Homo sapiens: one gene and its partner. The protein of the gene in region 2 purifies or fractionates together with the protein of the main gene of each other region. This does not show direct contact. Each region holds a gene or a part of one and is shown on either strand. Other genes may lie near its edges.

The links.
Region 1: the proteins of ANKRD36 (region 2) and SEM1 purify together in Homo sapiens (co-immunoprecipitation; one large-scale study listed by IntAct). This does not show direct contact.

Annotation. Positions count from the first base shown.
Region 1 is NC_000007.14:96,703,242-96,707,069, forward strand, and holds part of SEM1 (26S proteasome complex subunit SEM1), read right to left. Parts: intron 1-3,828. UniProt on the Homo sapiens protein: Component of the 26S proteasome, a multiprotein complex involved in the ATP-dependent degradation of ubiquitinated proteins.
Region 2 is NC_000002.12:97,119,553-97,123,380, reverse strand, and holds part of ANKRD36 (ankyrin repeat domain-containing protein 36A), read right to left. Parts: intron 495-3,828; coding exon 388-494; intron 1-387.

The DNA of each region.
Region 1 (3,828 bases), on a different chromosome or scaffold from region 2:
GAGGATTTCAGATTTGGGATGCTCAACCTATAGTAATGCATCAGTGCGTTAATTTCCTGATTTTGATGGTTGTCTTGTGACTATGTCCTTGTAGGAAATACACATTAAAATACTCAGGAGTGATGGCCATCAGGTTGGCAACTTATTCACAAATGGTTTAGAGAAAAATGTTTGTACTGTACTTTCAACTATTCTGTAAGTTTGAGATTATTTCAAAATAAAAATTATATTATAAAAAATGAGTCTGCCAATTCAATTTGGCAATTCTTCTCTAGGAGTTTATCTTATAGATTAGCACACACACAAAAAGATGTAAACATATTCATTATCTGTAACAGAAAAAAAACAACAAAACCCAAGCAACAAAAACCCTAAAGCTATAAGGTTATTCACTGCAGCATATTCCATTTTTTTTTTTTCTTTTAAAGGCCAGGTGCAGTGGCTCACCTGTAATCCCAGCACCTGGGAAGACTGATGGGAAGACTGCTGAGGCCATTAGTTCAGTACCAGCCTGGGCAACATAACGAGACCAAATCTCCACAAAAAATTTGAAAGAACAAATTAGGTGAGATGGCACATGCCTGTACTCCCAGCTACTAGGGAGGCTGATAGGGAGGCTGAGACAGAGGATCACTCAATCCCAGGAGTTCAAGGCCGTAATAATCTGTGACAGCGCCACTGTACTCCAGCCTGGGTGACAGAGCACCAGAGCAAGACCTTGTCTCTTAAAAACACACACACACACACACACACACACACACACACACACATACATAAAAGAACCAAAGAAAAAACCCTAATATCTATCAAGAAGGGACTAGTTAAATAGACTATTTAAGATGAACACAATGAGGGCATGAGGTAGATTTTTATATTGATGCAAAAATGTACCTGAGATACATTAAATAATAAAAATCAAGTAGGAGGAAATAGTATATATCGTATGTCTTCTGTGTATGTATTTAAAGGATACATACAAACAAGTACAATTTATAAATACATTCTGGAAGGATACTAAAGAAAAAAACATTTAACGTTGGTTATCACTGGGACATAAATAACTTTTTTGGGGAATTGTAGAGGGAAACTGTGTTTTTACTTTTTAATTTATACTCTCATTAAGTTTAAATTTTTACCATAAGCGGTTACTTATACAATTATCCTATATAATATACTACAAAAATATTTTAAAGAGGAAGTTAAGTAACTAGCATGAGGTGACTAGCTGAAAGTTTATGAATGGTAGATTTGAACCTAGGCCTAATCCTAGATTCATCATGCTTATTCTATCCTGGGGTTCAAAAACTTTCTTCTTGCACACAATTATCAAAAATGGACATTCAACAGGTACTCTTCGAATCATTATACAGATTACACATTTTTTCTTAAAAATTTTTAGTAACATGAGTTCTCCATTTCTTGCTACCACCATGTAACTAATTCAAATGTTTAATGGTTATGTCCACTATATTACATTTAATAATGCAAAAACAGCAAAAGCCCTTTTTGGCACTAGGTAAACTGACTAGCATGGTGTGTGACATTATCAATACTGGTCACATCTATCTTCTACATTTAAGATTCTAAGGAATCCTCCTATTGAATGTTTAGTCCTGTTGGTATATGCTGTTCACATAAATATTTCTCAATAGCATTTTTCACAGGGCAGTTCTTCCTCGTGCAGGCACAAATATAAAATCCTTGACCTCTACCCACTAAATGCTGGCAGTTTTTCTACACTCCTACCTGTCAAGTCAGTGTGACATCCAAAAACACTCCCTTGGTTAAGAACCACTGTAAGATGTCATACTTTTTAAGGCACAGGTGATAATGCCTCATTTATTCCAGAATGCTGGCAGCATTAGGGGATCACCAGTCTGTTGTCTGCCTCAACAGACAGATTCCCATCATAACACTGTCTTATCCAGAAATTTCTCCAGGGGCCAGAGGGTGGGAAGGTGGGTAGTATTCTGCTCCTGATTTCTTCAGACTATATAGAAATTTCACCTAATACAGAAAAAGTATAGAATACTTAGTATAATATCACTCTTGTAAACGCTATTGCTGCTGCAGGCAAACTCAATTTCATTCTAAATATTCTAAAAAAGCTTCTCTCTCAAAAAAAAAAAAAAAACCCTTTCAATTCTGGCACAGGAAGAGAATAAAAGAATCTAAAGGAGCACTTGTTCTCTTCCCTCTTTTACTCGAATCCACATCTAATTGTCAGAGAAACTAATAAAAATATTTTTTAAAACTCTTTCAATAATTTGATATGGAAAAGTAGTCAACGTTTTAAATAAATTAGGCTGGGCGCGGTGGCTCATGCCTGTAATCCCAGCACTTTGGGAGGCCGAGGCGGGCGGATCACCAGGTCAGGAGATCGAGACCATCCTGGCTAACACCATGAAACCCCATCTCTACAAAAAAAATTAGCCGGGCGTGGTGACGGGCACCTGTAATCCCAGCTACTAGGGAGGCTGAGGCAGGAGAATGGTGTGAACCCAGGAGGTGGAGCTTGCAGTGAGCCGAGATTGCGCCACTGCACTCCAGCCTGGGTGACAGAGCGAGACTCTGTCTCAAAAAAAAAAAAAAAGTTTTAAATAAATTATAGACTACTTCAGTTTTTGACTCTATCACCACCAACCTGACCGTATGATTTGAAAAATGAAATCTTCTCTAGACTTTTAAGTTGCCCTCCGGTCCTAGAATTCTAACCATTTCAAAGCTTCCAAAATCATATCAAAATCAATCACACCCAGGACCTTGAATGTCTTCCTAATAAAGGCTGTTCTAAATCAGTTTAAGTAGTCAAGAAGTTGGAGGCTGTATATCACAAAGATCCTAAATATGATTTTTTACAGCTCCTGCTTAATGACCAGAAGATTACACACCCACCAATTAGAATAATTGTGAGGAAATGCCAATGTAGCACCAATTCACAGGCTATAGAATGGGGGAAAAAATAAAAGCAGCATTTGTACCTTCAGAGACTCCTTCCAGATGTTGCACTTTACATTGAAGGGCTATTGAGAAGAAACTATGCTGACATGGTGCCTCACACCTGTAATCCCAGCACTTTGGGAGGCAGAGGCGGGTGGATCACCTGAGGTCGGGAGTTCAAGACCAGCTTGACCAACATGGAGAAACCCTGTCTCTACCAAAAATACAAAATTAGCCGGGCATGGTGGCACATGCCTGTAATCCCAGCTACACGGGAGGCTGAGGCAGGAGAATCGCTTGAACCCAGGAGGTGGAGGTTGCAGTCAGCCGAGATCGCGCCACTGCACTCCAGCCTGGGCAACAAGAGTGAAACTCCATCTCAAACAAACAAAAAAAAAAAAAAAAAAAAAAAAAGAGAGAGAGAAGAAACAATAAAAATTCCCTTTCCTTAAAATGATTAAATGAACATCCTACCAAACATATTCTTATGCAAGATGGGATGTAGCAACGCCACTCCCAAAAGAAAGACCCACTCCCAAAAGAAAATCTATTAGTCGAACCACCAGTAACGACTTTCATGTGGCAACCTCTATACTCCAAGTTACCCGAGAGTGGATAAAATCCACTTTCTGGAGCACTGACACTCAACAAAGCGTTTGAAAGTAAGATCTGTTATAGACTGCAGAGATGTTCATAGGCTGCCTTAACAACACCAATTTTAATTTGTATCTGTTAGTGAATTTGTCAATGGCATACTTACAAGAAAAATAATTTTCCAAAGTACAGAAAGAACTTGAAAGTAAATCAGGGCATTAATACTTGAAGTGAAAACTCAAATACCAAAAGATTGAAAATAGGTCACTGTTTTAAAGTAATACTTTTCAAACT
Region 2 (3,828 bases):
AGTAGAAATGAAAAACTAACATGAAACCCCTTTAGCTAATGTAAGATCATACAATCAAAAGCATCACATTATTACATTGTAAATAACACCACATCATATTACAAATAACAAACATCTATCAATATACAGAGCTTTCTATATATAGAAGCCTTTTATGTGTATAATGTCTATAGAGAGAGACGAATCCTGCTATACACTGTTCTTTATGTTACTCAGTCCAAATAATTGTTTTCCTACCTAAGTGATGATCTGTGTTATTTCTCACTATATCCCAATAATTACAAGTTAGTCTTCTTATTAATGTAATATTTGTGACTTGAGGGACTGCTACCACACTAAAATGACACTCAGGTTTAAAAACGACACAATAAGAACTAAGGTCTGTACCTGCCAAGATAATCAATGGCATTTACATTTGCTTTTTTCTTTAATAAAAATTCCACCATTTTCACTTTTCTTCGACTCACAGCAAATAACAGTGGCTGATATTCACACTGTAAAATAACAGCAACAATTTATAATCACAAAATTACATATTTATCAACTGAACTGAAAACCTTATGTAAGTAAGATCCTGTGAGCTTCAATATATACAATTGAAAGGTCATAAGAGGTAGTCCCTTTCTTTTCCCTCCTCGGTGCTTTTCTATGTTCTGCTCCTTCCCCTGGAAACAACCTCCTCTGCCTCACCACAAGAACTCTGGTCATCTCCAAAACTCACTTCAAACATTTCCCAGTTCCAAGAATCTTTGCTTCTGTCCCAGCATTTAGCATGGCATGTTTCAAGGATTTAATTGTTTCCCACCTGAACCAAGAGCTTCTTGAGGGCAGCAGCTGTATTTTTTTCTCTATGTCCTCAAACTCTAAGACACAGTAATAAATGTTTCAGGTATTTTTATTAATGATCTAAATTATTATCTATAGAGCGGTGTTTCTTAAACTATTAATATATTCCAAAGGATATTTACTTTACCAGAATTTGAACATTATACCCCAAAAGAGAGACTCCATGATCACCCATGTTTGAAAAATGTTACAAAACTGCATTATGTGTCTAGTATTTGAGAAATCTTTTGAACTTCACCTAATCCCTATTTGTAAATACTTATTTTGGAGAATGTTAACATTTGAGAAATGAGAGTTTCAGGGATACAGTTGTGAGAGCTTACCAGTAAAGGTAGAGGTTTCCTCTGGGTGATACACACTTGCCTCATTCTCTTCTATCGATGGTGTAAGAATCTCAGGTGACAATGTCAGGAGCTCCTGAGCACCTGAGCACCTGACATTGTCATCTGAGATTCTGACACGATTGACAGTTCATTTGAAGCCTATCTCTTTTTAATTCGGAGAGCCGGGCTCTGAATTAATAGAGATAGGCTTCGAGTGAACTTTCACTGCTTATTATTAAATAGTCCATGGGTTTTCTCTAGTAATATTTTTATCTTAGCTGTCAGAAAGCTCTGTATGAAATGTTATTCTCAATTACAATCTTAGGACCCTGATGCAAATATTTATGTAATTATAATCTTAGGACCCTGGTACATAACTCCTTTAAAAATCTATTTGTATTCTAGTTTCCAATTAATTCTTACTTTTTTTATTTTAGGTAAAATATCAATCAGAAATAAAAATACAATGGCTTATCAATTAAAGCTCTAATAATGACCTATATGAATTATTTATAGCATAATGAAAGCCACTAAATTATTTGCATCTTTTATTTATTTATTTATTTGGGATGGAGTCTCGCTCTGTCGCCCAGGCTGGAGTGCAGTGGTGCCATCTTGGCTCACTGCAACCTCCGCCTCCCGGATTCAAGCACGAGAAATTCTCCTGCCTCAGCCTCCCGAGTAGCTGGGACTACAGGAGTGTGCCACCACACCCAGCTAATTTTTTGTATTTGTAGTAGAGAGGGGGTTTCACCGTGTTAGCCAGGATGGTCTCAATCTTCTGACCTCGTGATCTACCTGCCTCTGCCTCCCAAAGTGCTAGGATTACAGGCGTGAGCCACTGCGCTCGGCCAATTACTTGCATTTTTAGGAGGCAATGCTGAAGAGAAAAATATAATGTTGTCTGCAATATGCATAACCTATGCAACCATACCATGATTCACCTTAAAAAGCTTACATGCATTCTAATGGGAAGATGATTATTTATGGTATGTATAAAGAAAAATAGTTTATAAAACACCACCATCTAAATTCAAAAGTTCAACCCGATTACCAAAGGATTTATATAAAATATAGACTCTACATTTAAATAAATATAAAATGTCTTAAAAACCTTGAAATATTTACTAAAATATATTATAAAACAGGGCTTGTAAAGTCATCCCTACAGAGGCAAGGGAGATGACCTGAGGAAGTGAAGTACCTAGGTAGGCACAGTAGCAAAATGGAGACCACATGCCTCATAGAAAGGGGCAACCTCTGCACAGCATCCAAAACCTGAGATAGGCTCAAGGGACACCAGATTGGATTCTTGAAGAGAAGCCTGGAATCCAGATCTGTGCACGAGTCTCCTAAACCTTCCATGTTGAGACAATTTGTAGACACAAACTAAACACATGTATGGGACACATTTGGACTATATACCTTGTATTTTTATATTTGCTATGGATATGTCTCCAAGCAATTGTATGTAACACAAGTATTTTCATGTAAAATACTTCCTTTCTTTAGTTTCAGATTTTTTTTTCCAAAATAGGCCCAAGAATACAATAAAAATTGTTACTAAGAGTCATAATACCCACTTTGAGCACTTTTACAACATTCATTCATTTATAATTTATGTTTAATTTTCCCAGATTGTTCACCAAATGGATAATTAGTTCATAAGACTGCTGCAACTAAATTATTAAAATAATATTAAATTATAATTCTAGTTTCTATATTGTAACCTAATTTTTTTATTTTAGGGAAAATATAAATCAGAAATAAAAATACAATGGCTTATCAATTAAAGCTCTAATAATGACCTATATGTATTCTTTGTATTCTTACTAACTTCATGGTTTTCAGTGTTTAAAACTGCTATCCTGATTATGCCACAGTTCTATGTACTTAACTGACATACTGAGGCAGTCCATAATAGAGCTTCAGCTTTAAAAAAAGGTTTAGAATTTTTTGCTATTGTAATTGAGAGAACCCCGCTTTTAATAATGATGTATTGACCTAATCACCAGAATGATAACAAAGAGACTCAGAGTCCTGAAAGAGTCAGTCTCTACTTATTAAAAGAGTCCACAATAGCAAATTTCTAATGACCCTATGAATGGCAGTGAATAAGTGATGGTGGCAAAGAAAAGGTGTTATTCTTATGCTGATAGATACTGCAAATAATAGTCCTTTCCACTTCCCAACCACAGAGGTAGAGACAGGTAAAAGTCAGGCCAATATTATTGGAAAGGAGAAATTTAAAGGAAGCAGCACCTATCTCCAGCTCTTCTAGAGATTTTTTGTGTGTTTGAGATATGGGAATTTATATTACACTTATCTATTCAGTGGTTCTTAACCAGCAGCGTATCAGTGTCCCAAGAAATGTTTTATTGTTGTTGTTGTTGTTGTGTTGTTGCTGTTAGAGGCAGTGTCTTAATCTGTTGCTCTGGCTAGAGGCACCACCATGCCCAGCTTCAAGGAAATATTTTAAAACATACATGCCCAGTAATATTTAATAGTAAATATTAGATTTACCATATTAAAATCTTCAGGGGATATCCTAGACTTAGAGATTTGCTTTTAATTTCCCCAGGTTACTGCCATGCACAATTCTAACTGCGAACCAGCACAGTTGATAATCACTTCAGTCTCATTTCTCACCCACGTGGCA